Linked DNA regions of Homo sapiens: regions 2, 3, 4, 5 and 6 are each reported to be linked to region 1. The links are microRNA targets in miRTarBase. Many come from high-throughput screens and were not tested one by one. Region 1 holds a microRNA gene; each other region holds the end of a gene's coding sequence.
The links. Region 1 holds the annotated microRNA hsa-miR-218-5p (UUGUGCUUGAUCUAACCAUGU, at 3,593-3,613, shown strand). A microRNA usually pairs through its seed, bases 2 to 8, with sites in the 3' UTR of a target mRNA and lowers its output. Matches are read on the target gene's strand: a 7mer-m8 pairs with bases 2 to 8, a 7mer-A1 pairs with bases 2 to 7 and ends in A, and an 8mer does both.

Region 2: the mRNA of ACTR8 is a reported target of hsa-miR-218-5p. The part of its 3' UTR that is shown has no 7-base or 8-base seed match.
Region 3: miRTarBase lists DEAF1 as a target of hsa-miR-218-5p. The part of its 3' UTR that is shown has no 7-base or 8-base seed match.
Region 4: the mRNA of RIMKLB is a reported target of hsa-miR-218-5p. Seed matches in the 3' UTR shown: 7mer-m8 at 1,157-1,163.
Region 5: the mRNA of DIABLO is a reported target of hsa-miR-218-5p. The part of its 3' UTR that is shown has no 7-base or 8-base seed match.
Region 6: the mRNA of LANCL2 is a reported target of hsa-miR-218-5p. The part of its 3' UTR that is shown has no 7-base or 8-base seed match.

Annotation. Positions count from the first base shown.
Region 1 is chr5:168,766,451-168,771,823 of GRCh38, reverse strand. MIR218-2 (microRNA 218-2) reads left to right here and starts at 3,569; the gene lies at 3,569-3,678. All of the region lies in intron 14 of SLIT3 (slit guidance ligand 3), which reads left to right.
Region 2 is chr3:53,865,379-53,869,451 of GRCh38, forward strand. It overlaps ACTR8 (actin related protein 8), which reads right to left. Exons shown (of 13, transcript NM_022899.5): 13 at 1,688-3,484. The coding sequence ends at 3,341. It overlaps IL17RB (interleukin 17 receptor B), which reads left to right. Exons shown (of 11, transcript NM_018725.4): 11 at 1-416. Among named protein-coding and RNA genes, the nearest start is that of ACTR8, 15 kb to the right of the region's middle.
Region 3 is chr11:640,564-645,936 of GRCh38, reverse strand. DEAF1 (DEAF1 transcription factor) reads left to right here. Exons shown (of 12, transcript NM_021008.4): 12 at 1,283-1,704. The coding sequence ends at 1,387. It overlaps DRD4 (dopamine receptor D4), which reads right to left. Exons shown (of 4, transcript NM_000797.4): 4 at 5,231-5,373. The coding sequence ends at 5,334. Among named protein-coding and RNA genes, the nearest start is that of DRD4, 6.0 kb to the right of the region's middle. RefSeq lists a silencer at 2,994-3,288 and enhancers at 3,126-3,671, 4,521-5,132, 5,133-5,373.
Region 4 is chr12:8,772,608-8,777,980 of GRCh38, reverse strand. It overlaps RIMKLB (ribosomal modification protein rimK like family member B), which reads right to left. Exons shown (of 6, transcript NM_001297776.2): 6 at 790-4,660. The coding sequence ends at 4,197. A2ML1-AS1 (A2ML1 antisense RNA 1) reads left to right here. Exons shown (of 2, transcript NR_046715.1): 2 at 1,597-1,770. Among named protein-coding and RNA genes, the nearest start is that of LINC02972, 13 kb to the left of the region's middle. RefSeq lists enhancers at 4,873-5,372, 5,373.
Region 5 is chr12:122,203,540-122,208,888 of GRCh38, forward strand. DIABLO (diablo IAP-binding mitochondrial protein) reads right to left here. Exons shown (of 6, transcript NM_001371333.1): 6 at 4,129-5,038. The coding sequence ends at 4,842. It overlaps B3GNT4 (UDP-GlcNAc:betaGal beta-1,3-N-acetylglucosaminyltransferase 4), which reads left to right and starts at 170. Exons shown (of 3, transcript NM_030765.4): 1 at 170-262; 2 at 983-1,145; 3 at 2,779-5,349. The coding sequence starts at 1,080. The coding sequence ends at 3,849. RefSeq lists a silencer at 1-484.
Region 6 is chr7:55,430,692-55,434,691 of GRCh38, forward strand. It overlaps LANCL2 (LanC like glutathione S-transferase 2), which reads left to right. Exons shown (of 9, transcript NM_018697.4): 9 at 535-3,046. The coding sequence ends at 629. Among named protein-coding and RNA genes, the nearest start is that of LANCL2, 67 kb to the left of the region's middle. RefSeq lists enhancers at 2,613-2,662, 2,693-2,772.

The DNA of each region.
Region 1 (5,373 bases):
TGGGGAGAGGTTACTCCCAGGCAGACTTGTGCTTCTTACAACATCTTCTTGTCCTTTAAGTCAAATTCTTTAGTCCATGTCTCCAGAATGATAAGCTTTAGCTCTTTAAATTTTTTTAACAGAAACTAATACCTTGGGAGGGCTTGGAGATAATACAGAGACTTTGTGGCACTGTGAAAAGTTGGTACCGACTTCCCTTCCCTAGAATAATGATGTCAGTTACAACAGCCATCTTTCACCTGCGATGAGCGTGGTACTGGAGGCTTCTAGTCTGATTTGCTTCTTCCAATGGTCCTGGGAAGTCAGTAGGAGAGCCCTTTGCTCTATAGGAGAGGGAACTGAGGACTTAGAGGTGAAGGGGCACTCCAAGTTCACAAGCCAGCAAACAGCGGAGGCAGGACTAAACCTCAGGTTCATTTTGGTCCTCACACCACACAGCATCTGGGAGAGAAGGAATATTTGGGGATGACAATCAGCTGCTTGGATGACCTCCTTCCCTGGTCTCATGCTCCCACCCCTACCCGCTCCCTGAACACTGTCCTCAGGTTCCTTCCTGGGCCTGGCAACATCTCTGGAAAGAAAATCTCACCCAAAGCACAATCGTCCTATCCCCAGCACCTTTCCTCATGACTCACGCCAACCTTGGCCTCTATTCCTACCCCTGTCTGGCCAGGGCTGAGTTAATTAGCTCTGCCAAACAGTGGTACCCAAAAAGAAGGACAGTGAGAGCCAGAGGAGGGCAGGGTATTATCTGCCAACCTTGACCCTTTGGTCTCATAAGTATCCTGTTAGTACTTTGGACCCCAAATGGATGTGGCGGCCCTGCGTGGCACAGCAGGGAAAGAGTGCAGGATCCAAGGACTGGTATCTCCCCAGGAACACAGTCTTGGCAATTTTCTGGGCATGACTGTGGTTGGGGGTGGCAAGGTGGGGGTGGGGCTATAGAAAGAACTAAGTAGGAGAAAAGGAAAATGGAAAGTGGACCTAGGAAGCAGTAGAGCTTAGTTCTAACTCTAGCTCTGCCACTATCGTCCTACCTGTAGATCTGCAGGATCCTGGCTGCTTTTCCTATGTGGGGGAGGGGAAGCTGAACATTTTAAAAAAGAAACAGGGAGAAGGAGCCAGGTTCTTGGATTGACTCTAAGATACCTTTTTTAAAAAAAAAAACAATGCTAAGCGAAAGATTATTCCTAAAAAGTAGAGATGTTTGGAGCTAGCATGAGACTGACACGTAGCACTCTATTTGCTTTTATTTTATGTCATTGCAAAGAAAGCATGACTGCTGAGCTCCAAAGGCCTTGGCTTTGAGAAACATGGGGTTCCAGACCTGCCTTGGCCTTGGAGGGAAAGAAAAACCATAGATGTAAAGCTCTGTGTTTCCAGGAAGCTCCAGAAGAAAGAAGGGGGGCAGGTGACACAGACTGGATGTGACAGATAATAACTCTGCGTTTTACTTTTTCCTAAAAGCACCCCCATTGAAAAGACAGCTGATGTAATTAGGAGGCAATTTGAGGGCTGCTCCGTAACACATCCTGCCCCTCCTTAGGCAGGGCGTCTGGTTTCCCAGCTGCCTGTGTCTGCCTCTCTCTATCAGCTGCATCCGCCGCCTTGGGCAGCAAGATCAGTTTAGGGTTGGATGCTGCCGGCTGGGGTAATCTGACCATCAGATTAAGTCCTCCTGAAAAGGCTCCGTCTGGCTGCCTGGGACCCCAAGCCCATCCCTGGGAGCACTTGGCAGTTGCAGGGTGCTGTCTGTCTTCCTTCATGCCTCCCCGCTTTGTGTGAGAAGAAACTCTCTTGCTGAAAAGTACAGAGGGTGGTGACGCAAAGTGTCCAAAGACGGCGAACAGCAAGATAGCTCTCAAGGAATTACAGAACTTTTAGAAACCTTAGAGGTCATCCAGTTTATTCTAGAGATGGATAAATTGAGGTCCACACAGCAGAAAAATCTTATCTAAGGTATTGAGTATTATTTTTAGGGCAAGATCTGAAACCCAGGACTTCTGACATACTGTGAAGACTCTTGATAATTTACCTACAAATCCCTCCATTTCTTTTTGTAGGAAGAAACCAAAGAGAAAGAAAATTAGATTTTAAGGCTTGGTGAGGGTGGCGGTTTGCACGAACAGGATGGATTTCCCCTGCTCTTGTACCAGGGTCCTAATCAAACTCACATTTGAAGTCCCAGAACCACAGTGTTCACAGAGCCCTGCATAGGTGTCAAAGCAGAGTGGAGTCCAGATTCTAGTGGCTGACTCTAGTGCGTGTGATGAGAGACCTTAGGAAGGAGGAGAGGCCAGACAGACCCAGAGCTGTGGGCTGGCTCTTCCTAACTGGTCCAACATGGCAGACAACCTATGCACCGTTGAGATGCTGAGACCATCTAGAGGATATGCCCAGTCCCAAAAACACATAGTGGAAGAATGTTGATACTGGTTCTCATGTCAGAGGTCAGGCAGGGAGGGTCTCAGTCACTTAGCCTTAGCTCCAGTTTCTTCAAGATGCACATCTCCAGCCTAATGCCAAGTGGGAGGAAGTCCCAAGTCAGCAGGTTCATGGAAACTGACCCTGATCTATCACAGAGAGGAATATAAAAACTGGGTACCCTCACCTGGGCCTTTGGCATCCTGACAGTGGTTATTGGTTCATCCTGTTCGCTCCCATAATTTCCAGCTAAGGAAGAGAACAAGAAATCAAGAAGGACCCCAGAATTCAGTGTCTTCCCCTCAGACTCATCACTTGGCTTCCCTTTCCTTCCTTCTCTTAGTCTCAAAGAGGCCCTTCATCAGGAGGCGCACTGGCCACCATCTCTGTGAAAGTCAGTGTTCTCAAACAACAACTATGATTGCAGGTTCCTCAGTCCAAACCCTACGGCCCCATTTGTTTTCCTGTCTTTCTCTCTGGCTAGAGAGATATATTTTCTTTTGACACCCCACTGCTCCTCTATTAAACCTCAAATGATCTGGGATGAGTGTCTATCAGCCAGAGCATTCCTGCTGACCTCAAAGGATATAAAGGAGACTCCTGAATTGTGGAATGTCAAAGGGGGCTTTTTCCTAAAGAACAGCATTGAAGGTTTGCTAGACCACTGGGAACTGTGGATTGTCTCTTGACTTAAGGGGCTAGAGGAATGACTGTGATGGAACCACTCAGCTGTTGGGGGGATTGGGCCTATGTTGCAAAGCATGCAGAAGATGCTTTTCTAAGTTTAATGTCTTGTCAGACCAACTGGTGTGACTGAATGGAGTTTAGAGGCTCAATTCAGGCATGTGATAGGATCACAGATGTCTGAGTGTTCTTTCTTTCCTTGGGAAGGAACCATGCTGTCCTGAAGCTCCCGAGTATGGGCATCCAGTGATTTCCCTCCCGTTCTTCTCCCTTCCTACTGTGTCTCCCTGGGGTGGGGCACAAGGGCAGCAGGGCTGCAATCTTCGGAAGTGTTCCAGTGGAACCCCACTCCTGATACTAATCACGCTCAGTGGGGGCCTGCTCCGGCTTCCGCTTCTCCACGCTGCTTCCTCTGAGCGCTCCTGTCCTCTCTCTGACGCTGCTTCCTGACCTTGACTCTGACCAGTCGCTGCGGGGCTTTCCTTTGTGCTTGATCTAACCATGTGGTGGAACGATGGAAACGGAACATGGTTCTGTCAAGCACCGCGGAAAGCACCGTGCTCTCCTGCAGCATGGCCCGCCACCGCCGCCACCACCGCTGGACACCTCTCCTCTGCTCTGGAGCACCGCAGCCCACCACCTGCCAGACCCACCTCTCCCAGTCTCAACTCACCAAAGGCAGGAGGGTAGGAGTCTCAAAGGATGCAGATACAGAGGGAAATGGGTCTGGAGAAGCACCCTGGGGAAAGAGATCTGTATCCACATCTCTTTCCCAAAATGGAGTCACCCTCCCCCAAATCTAGTCTGGATGTCAGACAAGGAGTAATAACTAGGTTCAAGCTCAGAAACTACTGTGTCTCTTCTTCCACTGGAAGGGAACAAGTATACCCAAGGCATACGCCCCATGGTTTCATGGGAGAGTCCCAACCCAAGGTCATTTTTCCAAGTGGCAGCTAACCCAAAGGGGAATTCCTACTGCTTGTGACCCCCGACCCCTCCCACCACCACCTTTATTGGTATTCACTTTATTTGAAATGAACGTCAGCATGAGAATGGGTGAAACTCATGTGAGTCTGAGACTTTGGGTTTAACCCAAGGTTCCTTCTGAACCTCATTCCCATACTTTATGAAAACACAGTCCCTGAACCCCATGAAACCTAAAGTCCAGTCTGTTTCCTTGACCTGCAAAGCACAGTTAACGTGGAGGTGCTGGGCTCCTCACCTGGTGCTAATTCTGTTTCAGGGGAGGGGAGTGTGTGTGGACGTGGAAACCTGCTATCTCTGATAATAAAGAGAGGGATCTTGGTACCTCTTATTTTGCTTGTTCCTTGATAAATCCTAGACCCAGTGTAACCAGAAGACTGTGTTGTTCATTCCTGTCCTGGAGTCTTTGTCCTATTCTGCAAGAGAGAGCTAAGGTGGGAACTTTAGCCTAGCTCAGAACTAGAAGCTGAGCCCTGGGCCCCCATCATGAGGTGTGACTCTTATTACCTCGTCTATCTGAGGTTACCCCTCAGAACCAGGAGCCCAACCATTGCTTAGTAGTTTTTTAACATACATTGAGTGCTTGCTATAGGCCAGGCAGTGAACTGTTTTCACATCATTACCTTGTTTAATGTTCACAAAATCTAAAGTCCCACTTTACAGATGAGGATATTGAGGCTCAGAGAGGTTAGCTAACTTACCCAGGGTCATCTGATTCCAGAATGGCTGCACTGTACTGCTGTAATACCCACCTTCCCAGCTGTGGACAACCCCATTGCCTTGAATTAGAACATTTAAAAACTGTGATTTGATAGGGACTTGAAATTTGCTTAAACTCTCCCTTTCAGACTTTCATCTGTTAGTAGAAAGAACTTGAGTAAGAGAGAAAGCATTATTCAAATGGCTGTTCCTCTCCAGCATGGACATACAAAGATCCCATTTAACACAGAGCAAATCCTCGAGCCTGGAGAAGTTCCCTTTCCCACCTTACAGAGAGGGGCATTCTGAGGCCCTCGGCACTGCCCCTAACATGGCAGGGACCAGGCCTCTGGGAGTGGGTCCATAATGGTGCCCTTCCATCAGTGCTTTACTGGCCCCGCAGCCACAGGCTGTGATGAGGCAGTGCCAGCCTCAGACCATGGGTATTTCCCTCTGTTTTCAGGCAGATGGCTGCACTCATAATAGACTCCAAAGGGGATAGCTTACTAGGACGGCTCCCTGCCCAACTGGTGACCAAACTCCTAGTAAAACAGTTGGCATCTTCCAGCCACTGGCAGCTGG
Region 2 (4,073 bases), not on the chromosome of region 1:
ATCCTGAAGCTTACTATGCAGCCTACAAACAGCCTTAGTAATTAAAACATTTTATACCAATAAAATTTTCAAATATTGCTAACTAATGTAGCATTAACTAACGATTGGAAACTACATTTACAACTTCAAAGCTGTTTTATACATAGAAATCAATTACAGTTTTAATTGAAAACTATAACCATTTTGATAATGCAACAATAAAGCATCTTCAGCCAAACATCTAGTCTTCCATAGACCATGCATTGCAGTGTACCCAGAACTGTTTAGCTAATATTCTATGTTTAATTAATGAATACTAACTCTAAGAACCCCTCACTGATTCACTCAATAGCATCTTAAGTGAAAAACCTTCTATTACATGCAAAAAATCATTGTTTTTAAGATAACAAAAGTAGGGAATAAACAAGCTGAACCCACTTTTACTGGACCAAATGATCTATTATATGTGTAACCACTTGTATGATTTGGTATTTGCATAAGACCTTCCCTCTACAAACTAGATTCATATCTTGATTCTTGTACAGGTGCCTTTTAACATGAACAACAAAATACCCACAAACTTGTCTACTTTTGCCTAAAGTTACCTATTAGAGGTCACTGTCAGAGTTCTCAGTTTCTTAGTTACTATTTAACTTTTCATGTTCAAAATGAAAATAATTCTTAAGTTGAAAGCCCTCTTGAAGTAACCTTTTTATAAATGAGTTATTATAATGGTTTACTTAAATAAAAAACAGGGGTGGGTGCAGTGGCTCATGCCTCCAATCCCAGCACTTTGGCAAGGCCAAGGCAAAAGGATCGCTCAAGACCAGGCTACGTCACAAAGCGAGACCTCCATCTCTACAAAAGATTTAAAAAATTAGCTGAGTGTGATGGTGTAAGCCTGTGGTCCCAGCTACTAGGGAGGCTGAGATGGGAGGATCACTTGAGCCCTGGAGGTCAAGGGTGCAGTAAACGGTGATTGTGCCACTGCACTCCATCCTGGGTGAGAGCAGACCCTGTCTAAAACAAACAAACGAAAAAACCCCCACAGAATGACAGAACATAAAAGATGCACATTTTGTCTTCCAACTTTTTACTCTTCTAAAAGCATCTTTTTTAAATTTTTTAAATTTTTTTTTTTTGAGACAGAGTTTCACTCTGTCACCCAGGCTGGAGTGCAGTGGCGTGACCTCGGCTCACTACAACCTCTGCCTTCCGGGTTCACGCCATTCTCCTGCCTCAGCCTCCTGAGTAGCTGGGACTACAGGCACCCACCACCACACCCAGCTAACTTTTTATATTTTTAGTAGAGACGGGGTTTCACCCTGTTAGCCAGGATGGTCTTGATCTCCTGACCTCATGATCCACCCACCTCAGCCTCTCAAAGTGCAGGGATTACAGGTGTGAGCCACGGCGCCTGGCCTAAAAGCATCTTTTTCTTTAATGCAGAGGTTATGTTGTATTATTAGCATAAATGTTTTTTTTCTGGGAATGCTTATTTCACACAGCACAATACTGAATCTTCTCTGGAATGTGGATCGATTTCAGATGGATGACTATTAAAATGTGTATATTTGCAGATTATCCTTAAAGGGCCACCTCATGCCTTCTAATTTATGTCTTACGGATAAAAAATCAAAATGAAGCATAAAGTAAAAACTGTGTCCAGCTTTACAAGTGGACGCTTAGTAATGGCTGAGGCAATATGTTTAATGTAGCAAATTTTACTTATTTGTCATGATCAGTTTTCACAGTGCTTGTAAGTGCTGGTAATAGAAGATGGACATGGTTTAGGTCAAAACTTGGACCAGAAACCAACTTCCTTTGAAACAGCTCTACCAGTTATAAGAGCAATATGCTGTTAGGTGAAGAACTGTTTAACAGAAATATATTATGTTTTTGCAAACAGGCAGCTGATCCAAAATTGTGTTGAAACACCTCAGAAACATAAATGACATCAATACTCTATAAATTAATGCTGTTAACAAATTTAAAAAATAAAACATACAATTTTCAAATTGAAGGCACACATCCCAGTTGGTACTGGCAAGTTTAAATTGTTTCTAATACTGGTGGACTCTTCATTTGTAACCTACTGAGCAGTTACAGAGGGTACTCCCATTGATACAAAATGCTCAGGTACCGGCATTTCTCCACATCCAGAGTTCTTTCTATATTCCCTTCTGATTTCCATCACTTATCTGTTCCCTGCTTTTGTCCTTCCCCAGTCTCACCCCCATCTCTAGCCATGGTAAGTGAGATGGCGGAAGCAGGTGCCTAGAAGCAAGCAGCAGGAAGCAGCATTTTCCCACTCCTCCCAGAGCTCTGGGCTCCCAGACTGTGTTCCTACCTCTGGACAATGCTTTCTCTTCCTCCTGGGCTCAGAGGGCTTCACCAGAGCCTGGACCACCAGTGGTAATAGCTGCATTATTTAGATTTTGCTTCAGGATGCTCAGAGGTTAAGGTTAACTGATCATACTGAACATCATGAACTCCAAAAGCTTTCACTTAATCCTTCAGGTAAAGGAAAATTGAGGCTTGATGACTAAGTTGGTAGTATTAATAACTACATCAGTCACCATATCTGTACAACACAAGGACTCTTAAATTATACCCAAATCATTTCTATTTGGCTTTAGGAAAAAAACAAGATTTCCTTTTCAGCATTTGTTCTGTTTTGGCCAAATAAAAATTGTTTTCTTTCTTCCTCTAAGCTCACCCTACGGCATGTCAGGTAACAAAAGCCAGTCTGCCCAGCCTTCCATCTTTACCTTTGGAAATCGAGACCTGAATGGGTCCCATTCTTTTTCTGTAATCCAACAGAAAATGAAAAAAAAAACAAAAACCACCAAAACTTTTTCCCCCTATTTGGGATTCTAAGAGGACACATGAGTCACATAAGTGCATTTAACTCAGACAACTTTAGATCCTAATGAAATACTAGACAAGAGAGAAAATGGCATGAGTGGACAGTTCTCCCTCGTCACATACTATCCCTCATGGTTGCATGAGGCTGCCTGCTGATGAGATTCAAGCCAACTTAAATGAAGGGCTTCACCACATGAGAACCTTCAATAGCAACGTTTACATCACTGGGGAGTTTATGAGACCCTGAGAGAGGGCAAGAGAGTTTACAACTGAAGAGAAAGTTCCTATTTATTCTCAAATGCCCTGACTAAACTGCTCAAAAGCAGTTTATATTTTCAAACCAATGTCATGTCCTCAACATAAAGTTCAAATTCATTTACTGTCCATGACACTTAAGCATCCAGATCAATAAATTACAATACACATATTCTGTAAGAGTCTTTTATACCAAGAAGCTTGTTTTTGGTCTTCGGCAGTGACATTTCCTCCCCATTCACCACACAAACGCAGCCCGCTCTCGTAACATGCGGACACCAAAGCGCTGCCACTCTCGCTGATAAATCCACAGTTCCTGTGTTGTATCCAAACAAGCCAACACTGCCCCTCCTTTCCATGCAATCAGCCGGGGGTCCATGTCCTACAGAAGGGATGAAGGCATTTCAGCCTAATCACATAAGACATATACTCAATCATTTACTTGAATATGGGGCCGAGAAAAATCCCTGCTGAGTCAATACCTAGTAAGCCAGGCTTTCACCCTGTATTAAAGACAGCAGGATTAAATACAGGCTCACGCCTGTAACCCCAGCACTTTGGGAGGCCGAGGCGGGCAGATCACGAGATCAGGAGATCAAGACCATCCTGGCTAACACGGTGGAATGCCGCCTCTACTAAAAATACAAAAAATTAGCCAGGCGTGGTGGCAGGCACCTGTAGTCCCAGCTACTCAGGAGGCTGAGGCAGGAGAATGGCGTGAACCCGGGAGGCAGAGGTTGCAGTGAGCCAAGATCGCGCCACTGCACTCCAGCCTGGGTGACAGAGTGAGACTCCGTCTCAAAAAAAGACAGTAGGACTTATGAACTACAGGCATCTTTCTGTTTCAATAGCCAAGAAAACTTTTAAATTTTTATAACTGAAGATGCTACTATTTACTACTATTGCACAAATACCCTATTTACCCTGTACACAGGAACATATATAAATAAATGACTTACTTATTTCGCAGT
Region 3 (5,373 bases), not on the chromosome of region 1:
CTGCTCTCTAGGGAATAACTCTGTCACCATTTGGAAGCATTTATTTCTGCTCTGTGTGTCATATACGTACCTATCACGCCCCCGTGCACGGAGCTGCCTCTGTCTGACGAGGCCGTCTCAGCTTCAGCACCTGGCGCTTCCTCTAGAGCTCTGCTCCATTCCGAGGTGCTCGACGTAGCAGGGAGGCAGAGCCTGGTTCTGTGTGCTGACCTCACAGGAGCTGTGGCTTCTCCCAGGCACCATCCCCCACCTCCTTTCTCTGCAGCCACGGGCTGGTTCCAGTTTGCTTTTTCATCTTTGCCATTAAAAACAGAACTGGGGCGGGGCGCAGTGGCTCACACCTGTCATCCCAGCACTTTGGGAGGCCGAGGCGGGCAGATCCCCTGAGGTCAGGAGTTCGAGACCAGCCTGACCAACATGGTGAAACCCTGTCTCTACTAAAAATGCAAAACATTAGCCAGGTGTGGTGGCGTGCACCTGTAATCCCAGCTGCTAGGGAGGCTGAGGCAAGAGAATTGCTTGAACCCAGGAGGCAGAGGTCGTGGTGAGCCGAGATTGCGCGTTACACTCCAGCCTGGGAAACAAGAGCGAAACTCTGTCCGAAAAACAACAAAAAAACCCCCACAGAACTTGATCGTAATTTACATATGTAATATTTACATATTTAAATGTTTTTCTGCATGTGTGATATTTTTTGTTTACATCCCTAACACAAAACAACTGGTTTGGAGAGTCTTACCCTGGTTTGTTGTTTGACTTTTTTTTTTTTTTTTTTTGATATGGAGTTGTTCTGTCACCCGGGCTGGAGTGCAGTGGCACCATCTCGGCTCCCTGCAACCTCTGCCTCCCAGGGCTGAGCAGTTCTCCTGCCTCAGCTTCCCGAGTAGCTGGGATTAGAGGTGCCTGCCACCATGCCCAGCTAATTTTTGTATTTTTAGTAGATACGGGGTTTCACCATGTTGGCCAGGCTGGTCTCGAACTCCTGACCTCAGGGGATCCACCCTCCTGGGCCTCCCAAAGTGTTGGGATTACAGGCGTGAGCCACCGTGCCCTGCCTGTTGTTTGCCTTTTGATCCAATTCCTCAAACCAAGAGAGTGTGGGGAAGGCTGTATTGGAGCAGAGCCCACCAGAGTTTGGGCGCACGGGGGCTGGGGAGGGCATTCTCAGCACCTCCAGGTGAGGTTACAGAGGGCTGCACCCTCTGGGGTCTGCCTTGGGGACCCTGCCCAGACCCTGCTCCACCCACTGACCCTGCTGACATGGGTGTGTCCTCCCTTCCAGGACTGGAAGGATCACCAGCACATATGCGGCCAGTCAGCAGCTGTCACCGTCCAGGCAGACGAAGTCCACGTGGCTGAAAGCGTGATGGAGAAGGTGACCGTGTGAGGCTCCATCGGCCGCCCTGGGAGCTGGGGCCCCTCGCACTCCTGTGAGGCTTTTGCAGGTCGAAGGCCCCCCTGAGGACTCTGGGGGGACGTTGAGAAGAGGGGTGTGGGAAGGTAAAGAAACTTGCTGGACAAGTCATTAACACACTTTAAGCGAATGGTGCCCTGGGAAGCGCACTCCCCCTGCCCGGGCCCCCTGCCCGCTCGCGGACAGATTTTTTATCCCTGGGATCATGAGCGTCCGGTCTTGCCCACAGGGCCTGTGCTGCGACGCACATACATACGTGTTGTGTCTGTCAATAAAGTGTAAATAAGGTCTCCCTGCCCCACACGGCCGGTTGCAGTGCCAGCCCTCGGGGGGGGGTTTCCTCCCCTTCCTCCTACTGCGCAGGTGGGAAAACCAAGCCCACCGCACCTCTGGTGCACGGGACAGCGCGGCCAGGCCGGAGCCTCCGGTGCACGGGGCAGCGCGGCCGGGCTGAAGCCCTGGCGTCTGGTGGCTCGTGTAGTCCAGGAGGTCTTCGTTCCTTCTGTTCCACGAGACCCTCGTGGCTGCTGGGAGGTGCAGCAGGCCTACGGCCCTTCCCGCCAGGTTTCGGGGCACATGGTGCCTCCTGTGCCCTGGCTGCTTGAGCGAGCCCGACGGTCCAGCACGGCCTGTTCAGTCCACGTGGACAGCTTGGTGGCCTCGGTCCAGGGATCCACACGCAGAGCCTCATGGCCTCCTGGTCTCCCCCTTGTTTCTCATGGCCCTGGCGCCAGGTGGAGGAGAAAGGGCTGAAGCCTGTGGGGGGCACAAGGGGGCGTGTCCAGCGTGTTTGGGCACTGGGCTGGGCCTGAACATGGGACCCCCCTGCCCTCCTGACCAAGAGCGCTGCTGGAGCAGCATCACTCTTGTTCTGGAAGCTTCTGCCCTCATGGCCTGTGTTCTCTGCACACAGAAGGCTCCATGGCTGTGGCTGCCTTGGGGCGAGAAAGTACACACTCAGCAACAGCTCAGCAGGCACCTGGGGTAGGGTGGCAGCGCCAGGAGGAACCTGCACCAGTGATTCTGATGTTTGCCTCTGAAGCGCTTTCTGCACCAGCTGGAGCTGAGCCCGAGAGGTGGCCAAAGCCCCCTTGGAAGGGGATGTTCACTGGGCCCCGCAGAGGCCCCCCGATATTTTCAGTCTCTGGGTTTCTCAGGACCACCTGGTTTATTCCGGTTTTCTTTTTTTTTTTTCTTTGAGACAGAGTCTCACTCTGTCACCCAGGCTGGAGTGCGGTGGCACAATCTTGGCTCACTGCAACTTCGCCTCCCAGGTTCAAGCGATTCTTCTGCCTCAGCCTCCCGAGTAGCTGGGATTATAGGTGGCCACCAGCACACCCAGCTAGTTTAGGGATTTTTAGTAGAGACGGGGTTTCTCCGTGTTGGCCAGGCTGGTCTCGAACTCCTGTCCTCAGGTGATCCACCCACCTCGACCTCCCAAAGTGCTGGGATTACAGGTGTGAGCCACCGCCCTGGCCTATTTACTTAGTAAAGTCTCTGCCCAGCCAGGCCAAGCCCTCACTGATGTTTCATCATCCTGCTCAGGCGTGCCCGGTGCTGCACCGTTGGTGCTGCCAGTGAGCAGTGGAGGCTGGAAAAGGTGTCTGGGCTGCTGCAGGACGCGCTCCAGATGCTGCACCTCACCCCACCTGCCCCTCACCCCGCCTGTCCCTCACCCCGCCTGGCCCTTCCTGTGACCCTCAGCCCGCCTGGCCCTTCCTGTGACCCTCACCCCGCCTGGCCCTTCCTGTGACCCTCAGCCCGCCTGGCCCTTCCTCTGACCCTCAGCCCGCCTGGCCCTTCCTCTGAGACTCTACAATGGCTTTTCATCCAACCCAGCAGGGTCTGCCATTGCCGCAAGGTGGAGGCATCTCAGAGGCCCTGCTTGGCCTTGCCCTGTCCAGGCAGGCGGGCCGTGGGTTGACCTCCATGAGACAGCAGGGCTGGGCCTGCTCCTTTGGGTTTTAACCAACATAAAGGTGGCAGGCAATTGAGGACCTGCACCTCTTAAGAATAATCCCCCAAAGCTGAGAACACCAGCATCTCTGCAGAGAGCACAGCTGCAGGAAGTAGCTGAACCCCTGCCTGGTGGGGGAGGCACCGTGGGAGCCCTCTGGCACAGTGACCCCCGCCAGCAGTGATGCCACCTGGCTTCCTGCGCCAGGCCCTGCAGGAATGGAGTGGGGGTATTCCCTGGAATTGTGGGGGCCACTTACTCTTCCCCAACTTTCCGTAAAACAGAAGCCAAGCACCACGCGTCTGTTGGGATCCCAGGTTTCCACAGCTCCTCCTTTCCAAGCCTGGGAGGCTGATGGTCAGAGGTCGCCCTGCCCCAGGGCTGTCAGCACCCCCAGGACCCCCAGATGCATGTGCACCTCCCATGGCCTCCAGCGCTGTCAGGCACGTGTGGGGCTGTGGGTCCTGGGACAAAGCTGGCGGGAGCCCCTCCTTCACTCTCACGGGTGTCTGAGAGGAATCCACTGTGACTCAGTCTGTTCCGGGGGTGACTGGGACAGGCTGGTCCTGGGAAGCAGGTAGTCGGAGAAGGTGTCCTGGAGGAGGCAGCCGCTGAGGCCATCACAGAAGTGCGTGGTCACCAGACGGGACGGGGCAGCCGCACTAAAGTAGTAATTGGGCTTGGTCCTCTCTCCACCCAATACTCGTTTTCTTTTCTTTTTTGAGACAGGGTCTCCGTCACCCAGGCCGGAGTGCAGTGGCACGATCTCGGCTCACTGCAGCTTTGACTCCCTAGCTTTAAGGGATCCTCCTGCCTCAGCCTCCCGAGTAGCTGGGATTACAGGCGTGACCACCACACCCAGCCTGCACTGAGTATTTTAGCAAGCTGAGGTTGTGCCCAATGCTGTAGACTGCACAGCCCACAGTCTGTCAGTGTTCAGATGGGAGCCTGGCACCCTGACTGGCCACCCTGGCTGCAAACGCCGAATCCCCAGCACAGGAAAGTTCCAGCCAGCACGATTGGGAGGCGGAGGGTCCCCCATTTCTCCCACAACCTGGGCCTGGGAGAGAGCTGGATCCAGTCCAGGGTAGGCTGTTCCTGCATGGAGGGCCCTGGGAGCCGCCCCTCTTCCCCCAGGGTCAGGGGCTGCACTGGTTGATGGAGCCAGGGTGCAGACAGGCAGCTTGGGTCGCTCTGCCCAGCCCCTGGCCCCGCTGCCGCCTCCCTGCTCCCACCCCTTGGCCCAGCCACATTGGTGGACGCTGGGCAGAGGTTGGCTGGGCACCAGGGGTGACTGAGCACGGAGCTCCCTCCAGGGAAGCCACTTGGTGGGGCCCCACCCATCACCACAGGCCCCTTGCTGTGGGGCTTGGGGCATCCTCTGGCCAGGGACTGGCAGGAAGCTAGGCTCTGGCCTCAAGGCAGCTTCTAAAATGACAGGTTGGGCTCCCCTGCCGGGGTCTGCTGGGGCAGCATGAGCCTGGAGCCCCCTGTGCCTGGTTCTCAGAGGTGGGAGTTGGCCCGGGCAGGGCCTGGCGGCTGACAGCCCCCCACCCCGCCTCTCCCCATTTGTTTCTTCCCATCGGAACTGGGCTTCCCCAGGAGACACCTTGCCCTGCTGGGTGCTGCTTCCTCTCCCCTGCAGAGAGGGGAAGCTGGGCCCCAGCGCTGCGGAACTGAGTGGCTCTCGGGGGCCCCTTCCCCCCTCACCCTGAGCAGGCGGCCGGCTTGGTGGGGTCTGCTCTGTGGGCTTCCTTGGCGGGGAGAAAGAGGTTAACTGGCTGGGGGGCCTGGGGCCACTGAGGCAGAAACCCCTCTTCCCCACTCCCCATCAGCCCCCAGGAGCCTTCACAGCTGAGTTTGGGAAGGAATTTGTTTAATTAACGTACAAAAGCGCCCTCCCCATCTCCTTGGTCCCTGAGGCCTGGCCATCAGGCCGGGGGGCGTCCGGGGGTGCCCGGCTCAGCAGCAGGCACGCAGGGCCTTGCGGAAGACGTTGCGG
Region 4 (5,373 bases), not on the chromosome of region 1:
AACTTTACCCCCAAAAGCTCTTCTTTAATCATATTATTTGCTAGATACATTTATGCATTATTTTTAAGTGAGAATTATGACAAACCCATGGTTACTTTTTAAAGTACGTAAAGAAAGGAAGTTTTAAAAAAAGAAAGTTAGCCTAGTGATGGAAAGAAAGGAGAAAGAGTTAAATTACCTGTAGGCAGACTGGGGCTGTGCCTGAATCCAAACCGGTGCATTTACCATTCATTATACAGCTGCATTATTGGGGGAAGGGGAGTTTAGAAGGGCACTGACCCCGAAAGTTCTCAATACTTCTCACTCATCATCAGGAAGGGGGAAGAAGGAAAGTTTTTTCTCTGGGTATTTTTTTGTTTGTTTGTATTTGTTTTTTTGGCTCCTGAAAAGGCTGGTAAAGAACAGTAACAGTGCAAGCAGTTAGAATATTTCTTTAAAAACAATGTAAAAAATGCAAAACATTAAGGATCTTCAAAGGCCAAACTTTCATTAATATAGAAAGAATTTTCACTAGAGTTAGGCAGCCACCCCAAAACAGCATGGCAAAATGGCATTGGTATAAAGGAAATAAAATACCACACAAAAATCCAAAACAAAACTAAAAACATTTCAAATTAAACCTGGAAGACTAGAAGATTCCAACAGCAGATTTCTGTCCACTACTGAAACATTCCAAAATCCAAGCTCCAAAGGTGCCTAAATGTATTTTAAATGAAACTTTGTTTTGTTTTTTTAAGAAGAAAAAAAAAAAAAAAAAAAAAAAAAGAAAGCAAGCAAGCAGTCAGTGAACCTGGTTATAAATCCTGCAATATATTACATTTTTTAAAATCCTAGTACAACAAAAACAAATCTTAAATAAAATTGAACAAACAAACAAATAAAAACAGTAGCAGCAGTGGTTACCTGTCTGAGCACCTACATTTTCTTAGGAGGGGATCGTGTCTCACCAGCCAAATAGCCCATAAACCTTCTCAAAAAAAGTGAGCCAGGAGAAAAGTATAACACAAGATTTGATTTCACAATGTCTCTAAGCCCCACAAGCCCCAAACTGGGGATTCACTGAATGAAACAAATTTGCTTCTCCATTGCTTTCTTCTTGAGAAAAAGAGATGATTTTCAAAGTCAATGCCTTCAATATGTTCTCAAAGTCTGATAATGTGCTTGATGAATGCCAAGTCTCTTGTTGGGTTTTTCTACTGTTCCAGGGTAGTTTTCTTATTGGTAACATATACAGGAAGATTTCAATGTTCATTGGAGAAAAGCCAGCAGAAATGACCAATCAATTATAGGCACCAAAAAAGAAAAAAACTATTAAAAATTTTAAATAGAATAGTTCATACTTGTATGTTTAGATATATAAAGTCCAGTTTTCATCATGGGTGACATAAAAACAATATCAGAAATAATCATTTTTGAAATACAATTTAGAATTACAATTTTAACAATATACAAAAATTTTACAATTCAGATTTTATCATTACACATATTTGATATATACATTCTCTCTCATAATAGCAATGAAGATTATACAAAAGTTATTAAACAATTATGAAAATAAGTTTAACCTAAATATCTGCTGCTGTTTGTTTCCTTAAGGTACTTCCAGAATGATTTGCTCTTATTCTCTACCTCAATCTTGAAGGAATTCAAGAAGATATCCATGTTTTTAAAATCTAAGATAACTACTGCTCTTTTCATTCTAACATGTGAGTGTACGTTTTAATATCATGTGAATGCATAATAGTGAATAAAGCTAATGAACTAATTTCACATATTTCCTATAATATAGTTGGTTAATTTGGTATAAGTTAAGAAAAGACTAACTACATTTTTCCTGATGCCTTACCCCACCAACACAAACATGAACTACATACTTGTGATATGTAACTATTCAAAGTGTATGTGTCATAATACACATGGCAACCAGATGGTCTCTATATGAACATATGAATGATAATTTAATTAAGCAGTTCTTTCTTCCTCATTTATTTCTCTATACCAAATAGTATGCATCCTCCACAGTATGGTCATTCAGCGAAAGAAGTACCAAGTATTTCTTTCTGTTAATGAGTCAGAGGTATTAATATATGTATGTGAGTCCCCCATTTACCCTGCGCAAGATAAGTTCTTTTAAATGCAATTAGAATATCCTAAGATAAATTACAAACTCCTCTTATGTATCCTTTTCTCTGAGGTGAAATGAGACACTGCACAGATGAGAGGTACTATTCTATTCATCAACAATCAACCTTTCACTCAATTTTAATATTATTTAATTCTATGGAAAAAACAAATTTTATTACATTCCTTTTTAAAACGGGGGAAAAACTGTACAAGTAAGCATGATCAAACCTCTGTTATAGCTGGTTAATACTGATCTTTTATTATTGCCTCGAAGTCTCTCTAGTAGTGTCCAAGAAATTATGTTTAAGGTCCATCTGAAGGAAAATAGCACTGGAGAGGCAAGAAAGGGCTTGGGTAAAAGCTTCAGAGGATTCGTAGGGAGATGGAAAACTTGCTGTTTAAAAAATTACGTTGGGCTCTGCAGCATCTCCATTTCTTAACATACCATCCAAACCCATCAATGGGATTAGTTTTACCCATGTTTTAAAGGCTCATATTATATGCAGTTTGGGGGCTTTTATAAATTCTGCAAGTAAAGGAATATAAAGAGTGGACAGTATTGAAGGCTTAAGAGTAGGGCTATAAGAGACTCAATACTACTAAATAAGTCCCCAAACAAAAACATCCAACCCACCCCCAATCCCAAATCCTATATGTAAAAAGAGAAAATGCATAGCCAGAAGCATTAAAGAAAAGCATGTAGCCTTGAATAAACTGTACACTGAACAGGCTAGAAACAAAAGGAAAAAAACAAACAACGTACATATACACAAAAAGGCCTAAAAAAGCATCTACTCACCCTATGTTTTAAGGTGAATACCTCTACCCCAGTGGAGTCTACTTATGAAAACAACTCATCTGTTTTTTAAAGTCAAAAACTCTGTTTCCCATCATGCTCCATTTTCTAAATTATCCTTTTTGATTAGTTGATGGAAACAAAAAGCAAAACACATACACATGCATGCGTGCACACACATACACATATACTCCCTCGTAAAATGTGAAAAATGCAAATATATAACGCTGGCATTCGAAATCACTTCAGCTTTATACTTAGAACTCATAGGCTCTTGATTTGCCCCCAAAAATATTTTTCCTTGTCCTTATTTAAATGCCCAACTACCAAAACAAAAAGGGAAAAAATAAAAGGCTTTAAATGTACATGTTTCAAGTCAGTGTCTTGTTAACAAAAAAGGTAGCATTTTCTTCACTTTGGCCATTGTTAAAGATGCAGGCATAGAGCAGGAAATGTTAGACTAGCATGTATTAAAAAAAAAAAAAAAAGCAACATTAACAGAGCACATCTTTCAAAAAAGACTAAAACACTAACAAATACAAGTGAATGCACATATTTTAAACTAGTGTAATTTTATCTACATTGAATTAATGTTATTTTGTATACCGGACATTGCAATACTGTTCATTTCCATTTCATCATGCAAACATGCCAATTTTGTCATTAAGAAGCCTTTATTGGGTTATATTCAATTTGACCTCCCACCAAATTAAGCGGGAAAAAACAAAAAAATAAGAAATCCCAGTAAAAGAGCCCCTCAAGATTTCATAAACTACAAACTAAAGCTGCTAGTTAATAAGGAAATGGCAGAATTTTCAGAGCTGTATAATACAAAAATTCCTGTAATTTATGCAGATGTTTTCCTCACTGATGACAAATCTTCCAACACAATGTGAAGTTATGCTACTTGGATATTTGTAGCAAAACCATTTTTTTTTGTACAAAAACAAAAGCAAGGGACCATGAAAAAAAAAAAGTATTTGTTCCTCATGGCCTATGAGCATACACATTTTTTAGCAATTTAAAAGGGTAACTATGAGAGCCTGACATTTTTCTATACCCCACCTATTCTGCCTCTCTATTTGTAGGATTTGTAAATGAAAGTAACATCTTACTAGCAGAGGTCTCATCTATCTCCCACTCTCTCCAACTAATCCTACTAATTTTCTCTCATCTTCCTGAGCATCCTCCATGAACAGCATTGCAAGTTGGTTTTAAAAATAGAAAAGAAGAAAGAAAGTTTTACAAGGGTTTTGTTGGTTAATTACCAGTGGAGTCAGTCCACCAGTAGTTTGATTTCATTGGCTAGCAGCTGGTTCATGTTGAACAGGCCCCCTGGGAGCTTGGTGAGCAGCTCTCGCTCCGTGCTTTCAGGGTCGCTGTCAACAGAGCTGGAACTTGCACTCATGTTGTCAACAGCAGTGCTGGCTGGGGGACCCAGCTCCGGCTCACTAGTCTCACTGGCAGTGGACACCACGGAGAGCAGGGACATACGCCGGGTGAGCCGGCCAGAGGGTAGAAGGGAGGCGGCATAGTCTGCTATGATACCAGCTACATCTAGATTACAAGCCTTATCAAAGGCGATGAAACCTACATTTGCATTGGCCTCACAGACGCAGAAGGAGCCGTCATCTTTCATCAGCAGATCAATGCCACACACATCCATCCCCAGGATATTAGACACCTGGATAGCTAGCTGCTTCCCTTGTTCACTCAATGAGCACATCATCCCCACACCACCTGGCAAAAGAAACAAGACAGGAAATTAACAAAATCATAAACTTTTGAAATAAAATTAAAGTTGGCCTCCAAGGCTAAGCCTTTCTTCTAAATTAATAGTGAAAACAAAGGCGTTATTCTAGTGTAAAATTAGGACTTCTAAGTCTAGATTTCCTTAATCAGGAATCCTCTCCCTATCCAGTCTCCCAGGAATTGATGATTTCGTAAGTTGTCAATATTTTTTCCAAGTCTATCTTACTTGCAATAATATAAACCAAGTATAAGGAAGTTCAGCATAAATACAATTAGACCACTTGATAGATGGCAAAAGTATTATTGGTTTTTGATTTATAAAAATAATAAAAATGCATAACAGAACGGAGGATGGGGTGAAATCTGGGAAGGTGGTGACGTGAACACAGTTTTCTTCCTCTATAGCCCCCACTTCAATCTAGCTGTCATTCCTAAACCAAAAGGCTTCTGGGTTATAAGGTAGCTGGCTGGATATAAGTGAAGTCTTTGGCCTTGCCAAAAGGAAGGAAGAGAAAGGAAGTAGAACTTGATTTTCTCACTTGGAGATCAGCTTCACGAAGCTCTGAACTAAGGACAGGAAAGTAAAGAACTTTAAGAAGAGCTTGGTTCCAAGAGCTCTGTGTATCCATAGGAGTGAGGATGACATGTGAGTTTACCCGTAGTGTTTGACCCCAAAAAGGCCAGAAGTAGCTGGACAGGTG
Region 5 (5,349 bases), not on the chromosome of region 1:
AGGAGCAGCCTCTGCCCGACCCGGCTCGTGCGGACCCCAGGACCGGGCGCGGGACGCGTGCGTCCAGCCTCCGGCGCTGCGGAGACCCGCGGCTGGGTCCGGGGAGGCCCCAAACCCGCCCCCGCCAGAACCCCGCCCCAAATTCCCACCTCCTCCAGAAGCCCCGCCCACTCCCGAGCCCCGAGAGCTCCGCGCACCTGGGCGCCATCCGCCCTGGCTCCGCTGCACGAGCTCCACGCCCGTACCCCGGCGTCACGCTCAGGTAGGTTGGGGGCCGGGACGCCGCTGCTGTGAGGGAGGCTGGGTCACCGTGCAGGGAGGGGCGTCGCCAGGGCGGCCGTGCCTTTGCACCCCGCGGCCCGCTCCCCGGTCCCCCAGGGTCCCCGCGAGGACGCCGGCCCCGCCCGGGTGCGGCGCGAGTCTGGCCTCGGCGGGCACGGCTCGGGGCCCACGGGCCGCTCGGCTTCGGTTCTCCAGGCTGGGGACAGAGGCTGGAGCCGGGCGCGGTAGACCCCGCCAGCCTGGGCCGCCCGCGCCCGACGCGCAGCGCTGCTGCCAACCCCGGCCCGGGGGTCCCCGCAGAGTGGGTCTCTGCTGCCGTCAGCCCTTCGGAGACTGTCGCGTTGAAAGAATGAACCAGAGTTCGCCCCCTGCCCGCGCCAGGGCGTTTTGGGTCACCGAGTCCTGTGGGGATCCGAGGCGGCTGCCGCCCAAGGCCGAGCGCAGCCTCAGGACCCGCGCCCCACCAGACGGGGTCGTGCGCTCCGCGGCGGGTGGAGAGCCGGGCTCTGGGGTCTCCGCGGCTCGGAGGGCGGCGGGGCGAGGCCGTGCGGCCAGCGCCTGGGGACGCCCGCGGCGGGACAGGGGCCACCCGGGCCGCGGCGCAGCCTGGGCTGAAACCTCCTGGGACGGAACCAAGCCACCTGCTGTGCGCCCTTCTCGGTGAATGGCACCGCCGCCCGCCCGGGCCTCTCGTCCACAGCCCGCGGTGCTCGCACACCTGAGACTCATCTCGCTTCGACCCCGCCGCCGCCGCCGCCCGGCATCCTGAGCACGGAGACAGTCTCCAGCTGCCGTTCATGCTTCCTCCCCAGCCTTCCGCAGCCCACCAGGGAAGGGGCGGTAGGAGTGGCCTTTTACCAAAGGTCAGATTCTTTCACCGCCTCTGCCAGACCCCCTTGTCCCCCACCCCCGCATAGATCTCCAGGGGGCTCAGAAAACTCTGGCCGGTGGCTCACGCCTGTAGTCCCAACGCTTTGGGAGGCCAAGGCGGGAGGATCGCTTGAGGCCAGGAGTTCCAGACCAGCCCAGGCAACAAAAGATACCACATCTCTACAAAAAATAAATTAGCCGGGCCCTGCACGCCTGTAGTCCCAGCTACTGGGGAGGCCGAGGCCGGAGGATCGCTTGAACCCAGGAGTTCCAGGCTGCAGTGAGCTATAATTGTGCCACTGCACTAGAGTCTGGGTGACAGAGACACTGTCTCAAAAAAAACCAACAAAACCCTTAGCTCTTTCACTAGCCGGGCTGGCCTCTTCCTACTGTAAACCTGCTGGGCCCCCGTCTCCCTTCTTTCTCCCCTCTCTCCTGCCCTGGAGCTGCCTGACTCTGCCCACGGCCTGCAGAGACCCCAGGTCTTCACGCAAGGTGCCATTCCTCACTCAGTTCTTGCTCAAACGTCCCTCCATCAAGGAGGGCTTTTTAGCTACCCTTGGCTATGGGATCCGTCCTCCGCGTCAGCCAATTCTCTGCATTAGACTGTAACTTCTCAACATACCTGGTTCCTATGCGTTTTGTGCTCCCCTCTGAGAGGGCAGCGACCCTGTCTTGCTTGCCACTGCATCCCTAGCACCTAGCAGTTGCTTTTCTGGTGACGGCGGCTGTGGCAGTGGCCAATGCGGCAGACTGGTCAGAAGTGAAGGGACAGGATGACTTGGCAGTGGAGGTCAAGGGGAGGGGACTGGGGCAGAGGGAGACACCAGAGGGACAAAAATGAGAAACTGAAGACAGGCTTTGCTACGTGGAGCTCGGGCAGGCCACACTGGTGGATTCTGTCTCCTCATCCTTCTTTTCAGGTCCCTGGGAGAAATCAGCACTTAGAACGTGGTGGGAAGGCGGGGCGGGGTGCCTCGGAAGCCATCCCTGATACAAGTCCCCAGCTTTCCTGCTTCCCCTCTTGTGGTGTGTGGCTTTGTCTCCCTCCCTCCCTCCTGGAAGCCCCGACCTCTGAGGCAGGTGTAAAGGGTGTGTGCTTTGGTGGCCACGGCCACCCTGTGGTGCTGGTTCTCCTCCGAGGGAAGCAGTGCACTCCTGGTCATCTTGGAGACGCCCAACACAGGACCCCACAGGCACCAAGCTTTTTTTGGGAAATGGTTTCACTTCCCACTTGAAAAGCCCTGAATGTCAGTTCCACACTTAGTGAATTTGATCCAAGCTAAACTGAGTCTGTGCCTAAAACTCATCAGGTGCTCGAGTTTCCTGGAAGAATGGCTGGGAACGTTTATGGTGTCAGCTGTAAAGTGGCTGCAAGTCCTTTTGGGAAAAACAGACCCAGGAGTCCTCAGATGATGGCAGAGGAGGGCAAGGGCTGGCAAAGCAGCTGTGCTTAGCCCATCCTCAGGGGAGGGAGGACTCTGGAAAGAGCCTGAGGATACGCTGAGAATAAAAAGTCCAGAGGCCAGCAGGGACTTAGCGGCTGGGGTGCAGGTTAACTCCTGCCCAACTCTTGGGGACAGGGACCCGGGGCTGGGCCCTGCTCAGGTGGCTCTCTCCTTGCAGGGACCGGCGATGCTCTGCAGGCTGTGCTGGCTGGTCTCGTACAGCTTGGCTGTGCTGTTGCTCGGCTGCCTGCTCTTCCTGAGGAAGGCGGCCAAGCCCGCAGGAGACCCCACGGCCCACCAGCCTTTCTGGGCTCCCCCAACACCCCGTCACAGCCGGTGTCCACCCAACCACACAGTGTCTAGCGCCTCTCTGTCCCTGCCTAGCCGTCACCGTCTCTTCTTGACCTATCGTCACTGCCGAAATTTCTCTATCTTGCTGGAGCCTTCAGGCTGTTCCAAGGATACCTTCTTGCTCCTGGCCATCAAGTCACAGCCTGGTCACGTGGAGCGACGTGCGGCTATCCGCAGCACGTGGGGCAGGGTGGGGGGATGGGCTAGGGGCCGGCAGCTGAAGCTGGTGTTCCTCCTAGGGGTGGCAGGATCCGCTCCCCCAGCCCAGCTGCTGGCCTATGAGAGTAGGGAGTTTGATGACATCCTCCAGTGGGACTTCACTGAGGACTTCTTCAACCTGACGCTCAAGGAGCTGCACCTGCAGCGCTGGGTGGTGGCTGCCTGCCCCCAGGCCCATTTCATGCTAAAGGGAGATGACGATGTCTTTGTCCACGTCCCCAACGTGTTAGAGTTCCTGGATGGCTGGGACCCAGCCCAGGACCTCCTGGTGGGAGATGTCATCCGCCAAGCCCTGCCCAACAGGAACACTAAGGTCAAATACTTCATCCCACCCTCAATGTACAGGGCCACCCACTACCCACCCTATGCTGGTGGGGGAGGATATGTCATGTCCAGAGCCACAGTGCGGCGCCTCCAGGCTATCATGGAAGATGCTGAACTCTTCCCCATTGATGATGTCTTTGTGGGTATGTGCCTGAGGCGGCTGGGGCTGAGCCCTATGCACCATGCTGGCTTCAAGACATTTGGAATCCGGCGGCCCCTGGACCCCTTAGACCCCTGCCTGTATAGGGGGCTCCTGCTGGTTCACCGCCTCAGCCCCCTCGAGATGTGGACCATGTGGGCACTGGTGACAGATGAGGGGCTCAAGTGTGCAGCTGGCCCCATACCCCAGCGCTGAAGGGTGGGTTGGGCAACAGCCTGAGAGTGGACTCAGTGTTGATTCTCTATCGTGATGCGAAATTGATGCCTGCTGCTCTACAGAAAATGCCAACTTGGTTTTTTAACTCCTCTCACCCTGTTAGCTCTGATTAAAAACACTGCAACCCAGCTAACTTGTCCAGCATATGTTGAATGGGAGCCAAAGTGTAGCAAATGCTGCCAGGAACCTGTCGGGGCATTCCGGGCGCTGCCTGGGGCGCTGCAGTCTGGGACCTCAAGGAAGGAGGCTGCATAGGACCCCAGGAGAGACGCATTTTCTCTTTCAGATGCAAACAAAATCTTACACTCTTCTCCTTTGGATACAATAGAGAAACGGAAAGAAAGGAAGGAACAAGAGGCCTGTGTTAAGTCCTGTTGATGTTAAGTCCTGTTGAGAGCACCAGGTAAACACTCTGCACCCCTTCTCTTAGTAGTAATAGGTTTTTCACTCCTTGGCCTCAGCTGTCCTCACAGGACAGTGGGGGCAGATCAGAGAACACATCAGAAATACATACAAAGAAATCGTACAAACTGGACAGGTTCCCCTCCCCCTGCCACAACTGGCATCCCAACAGAGGGAACAAGTACTAAATCATTTTTGACGACGTAAATAAGACTGAAAACAGGTTAAACAGTTGCTGAACTTAAGGGCATGACAAAAAGGACTCCTCTCTCTGACCCAGGTAGGCAAAATGCTTTGGGTGTGAGGTAAAAAAAATGGGTAAGAGCAGCTGTACAGAGTGGGGTGAAATGTTAAACAGGGTGCAGTGCCCAAGGGCTAAGAACCAGGTCCAGCGCAAGCCTGAGACCACAGGAGGCACTCACAGCTCACAAAGGCGTCTCGCCTGATTGGCCAGGGCAGGATCTGCCGCCTCTTCTCGGTGCACAGACAGTCATGCCAACCCTGGGCAGGGTGGCATCTGCCCCTGCTTTCCCCACTGAGTGGGGAGACAGGGCAGTGTGCTCAGGCCCTCAATCCTCACGCAGGTAGGCCTCCTGCTCCGACTCAGCCCGCTCCTCCCCTTCCTCCTGTGTTTTCTGACGGAGCTCTTCTATCTGTGCTTCTGCCAGCTTGGTTTCTGCTTTCCGGGAGAGCTGGTGCACCTCTTCCACCTGCAGTTTCACCAGCTGAATGTGATTCCTGGCGGTTATAGAGGCCTGATCTGCGCCTGCCAAAAGATGGGACAATCGGGTTGAGCAGCCGTGCAGGGCGCGGAAGGCTCATGTGGACGTTGGCCTGGGGGTGCTGTGGCTGTCATCTGAACCCCTCTTGGGGTCACTTTCCTTGACCTCCCTGTCTTCTCTCTCTGCAAAGAAACTTCCACCTCTATGTTCAGGTCTGGATTTAACTGACACTCTGTCAAAAACAGCATTTTTCTTCAGCTGTCAGCGGCCAACATCACAATTATTAAATGCAACTCTCACAATCATCTTTATAGCTACAGAGCTTTTAGTACAGACCTTTGATTAATTTTTTTAA
Region 6 (4,000 bases), not on the chromosome of region 1:
GAGACCTGGAGGCCTTGGTGGGCTACTAGCACCTTCTCCACCCCACACCCTTCCTAAGCTGCTGTGAGTCTAGTTGAAAACCCACTGCTCAATTACTGCAATGATTTGGGGTGGGGATTTTGACCAAATTGAGGTTTGTTAAAAATAACATTCTTCAAATATCAAGAAGATATAAAATGCAACTTTGAGCATATACAGGCTCTGAGGGGAAGCTCCGTGTATAGGAATATCGTAATTAGCAGCATCCATAACTTCCATAGCGATTCTGTGATGCCACCTTAAAGTTTCAAGATATAAGATTAAAGCCCAGTAACCAGTTTTTTAAATATAAGATAGTGAGGAAAACTGGTGTTATTATATTACCTGCCAGGTGCTAAATATAAGGATATCTTTGGTTTTTAATGAAGTCATCTTTAGAGTCCTCAGCACCTTTCCCACATGCTTGCAGCCCCTGGTAAGGGAAATGATTAAAAGTCACTGTTATAGACACTACCCTTATGCCATTCCTAAGAGGCTCCTCATTTTACATTGCAGGCATGGCTGGCGCTATTCACTTTCTCTCTGATGTCCTGGGACCAGAGACATCACGGTTTCCAGCATTTGAACTTGACTCTTCGAAGAGGGATTAAAAGGTGCAAAAAGACAACTAAAATACCCATTTGGACCAAAAGCCACCAGATTGCTTAGTGCCTGACACAGAAACAACTGGGAATCCTGAAAGAGAAGCAGACACCGTCACAGGCCCCTCTGGTTAGACTAGCATGAGTGACCGAAGCCATCCATCAACATTTTCTAACAGCACCCTCATCAATATAAAATATGACTTCTTCACATACAGATTCTCTGTAGTGTTTGCATGTTTCTTGGTGTTTGTTGTCTCCAGGTGTAAGCTGTTTTAAATGGAAGGCCCTTCTATTCCTGAGGGCTCAGAGCTGACCATGCATGAATGTATGGCAGTGTCCACTTTTCTGTATAAAATGTATAAAGTGGGGTTTCTTCCATATTGACAAATGAGGGAACAGGTGGTGTCTATCTTGTATATCAGAAAGATTATCTAGGGTCTATCCTAGTGATAATACATTGTCAGCCTTTTCTGTGGCACCTTCCAGATGAGAATGAGGGAGCGACCACTCCAAGGACGGACAGGACCAGCAGTTCTGCAGGGGCGTGCTGGGGTGGTTTGGGAGTGCACAGCTGAACGCTTCCCGTTTGGATTTTACACTCACCTTCGTGTTTTAAAGAAGCCTCAGAGTGCATTGCAGCTCTGTCAGGGCCCCATTCCCAGCAGAGGCTTCAGGTGCTTTGTGTAGAGTCCAGGGCAGCTGGAGCTTTGTTGGGGAGACTTCTGGACCCAAAGGGAGCTTTCCCAAGAAGCCTTTGATGGCCACACTGTAGGCAGCAGTGACTAAGCACTGGCAGTTCCAGAACATTTACCCAGGTATATGTTACTAAAACAGGCTCCACCTCAGTTTATCAACATTATAAGTTACTGTTCTAAGAAAAGTAAATACAGTTCCAGATGGGTTATTGCAGATTAACAGAAAGACACTCAACTGGACTCATGTCCCTGCAATTAAACTTACTTCAACCTTTTGGAAAGTTATCAAAATCTAAATTTGGAATGAATGCATTTCCTATTTTTTGTCTACTTTTGGGTGATAAAAAGTACTAGCCCTTATTTATAGATATGAGAAACATAATGTTCTAACCAACAACATTATGGTATTTGTGTGACTTTTATTTGAAAAAATGTGAGCAGTAATTTGGGTTAGCCTACCTTCATTAATTCTATCACATAGATTTCAGTTTTTAGAAGGGTTTCTGTCATCATGGAAGAGGTGGTCTGGGACTAGGTACTTCTCGTCTTGTGAGCTAAGGCTTGTGTCATGAAAGACAAGAGGCCTCTCTTAACAGCCCAGTCCTTGTCTGCAGGGGGAGGCCTGAGCATTTCCCAGCCCCAGTGTCCACACCTCTCAGAAAAGAGAAAAAAGAATGTCAGTTTAGGAGAAAAGCTTCCTTTTTACTTGTGTGGTTATGTGTGGGGCTGGCACCCGAAATGTGTGACATTCAGCTTCTAAACGATGCCTGGAGAGTCTGTTTGCTGCAGACACCCTTGCTCCTGAGTCATTATTTTCTTTCATGTTAGATTGATGACTTCTGTGAATAGAAATCATCCTGATCCTATTTTACCTGGCCTCCAGGGCCTGTTGATGGGCTTTGCAGGCAGTCCAGCAGCCCACACCTGCAGGCAGGATGCTGTCGTCAATGAGCTGAGGGTAGCTGCTTTGCTGAAGACCTCACACGATGTCCAATCTCATCCAAATAACATTGTTCCCATCCTCCCCACCCACCACATCAAAACATAACACATCACAGCACTCAGTAGAGGTCCTGCCTCCCCATTTCTCAAGGGAAGCCAGTAGGCAACACAGCCAGCACGGTGCTCTCCAGGGCAGCCCCTCTCAGACGAGGAGGCAGCGGGTGCAGCCAGGTGTCTGCAGAGCAGCCACAAAGGTGGCCTAGGATGCGGGTGTCTCCCCAGGTGAGTCCATCCACACACGTTTGAAAAACACTATTAGTCTTTCTAACACACTGAGGGAAAGATTAAAATCTGTGGAATAAAGGAGGAGATTTTATTTACAGATTTTTTTAAAAGCCACCTGGGTTGACACCTTCCTACTTATCCACTAGATGTCATCAGAGGTGCTGTTCCGTGGTTCTGCATTAACCCCTGCCTCATGTCTGTAACATGTGACAGTAATTCCAGCTCGGTCCCTCCAGGCAAAGGAGAAACGGGACTTACTTCACAGGACAGAGGATTGACAGAAGTCAGTTTAAGATAAGTGTTTGAATCAGATTTCAGTACATCTCATTCATTTCTTAGATTTGTATTCACAATTGTGTTCTCTAAAATGTGTCTAAATTTTAAAAATATGTACATGCATAATGTCATTTTAAAATCTGAAGGAAAGAATTTGAAGTCCACAAAAAGTGTTTGAGGTTCTTTGGTTTTGTTAGTAAAAGCCAGTTCTGTGGTGATGACCTATGGAATCGTCATTCGTTTTCATTTCTCCGTGTTTGAGAGTGACATTGGTTAGGAGCAATGGCGACTGTTCCGAAGGTTGGATTCTTCACTTAAAAATGCGGCAGTTGCGGCTGGGCATGGTGGTTCATGCCTGTAATCCCAGCACTTTGGGAGGCCGAGTTGGGCGGATGATGAGACCATACTGGCCAACATGGTGCAACCCCATCTCTACTAAAAATATAAAAATTAGCTGGGCGTGGTGGCGGACACTGTAGTCCCAGCTACTCGGGAGGCTGAGGCAGGAGAATCGCGTGAACTGGGGAGGTGGAGGTTGGAGGTTGCACTGAGCTGAGATCACAACACTGCACTCCAGCCTGGTGACAGAAGGAGACTCCATCTCAAAAAAAAAAAAGTGGCAGTTGCTCGCCTTATGATGTTCTAGTTGCAGGTTTCTTTTTCTTTCTTTTTTTTTTTTTTTTTTGAGACTGAGTTTCACTCTTGTTTCCCAGGCTGGAGTGCAATGGCGCAATCTTGGCTCACTGCAACCTCCACCTCCCAGGTTCAAGCGATTCTCCTGCCTCAGCCTCCCGAGTACCTGGGATTATAGGCGCGAGCCACCATGCTTGGCTAATTTTGTATTTTTAGTAGAGATGGGGTTTCACCGTATCAGCCAGGTTGGCCTCGAACTCCTGACCTCAGGAGATCCACCCGCCTCAGCCTCCCAAAGTGCTGGTATTACAGGCGTGAGCCACTGCGCTCAGCCCTAGTTGCAGGTTTCTATCTATAAGTACATTCTTTTTGATTCCAACAACAAGACCTTTGGAACCCTGGGTCAGAAGAGCCACATCTATCAAGCTCCCTCCTTGTGATGGGCCCTTTGTTTTCACAGCAGCACTGGGAAGGGGGACTGTTGTAATTAACACTTTCTCACAGACGAGACAGTGCCAGACTTGCCCAGCATCTCACAGCCCGCGT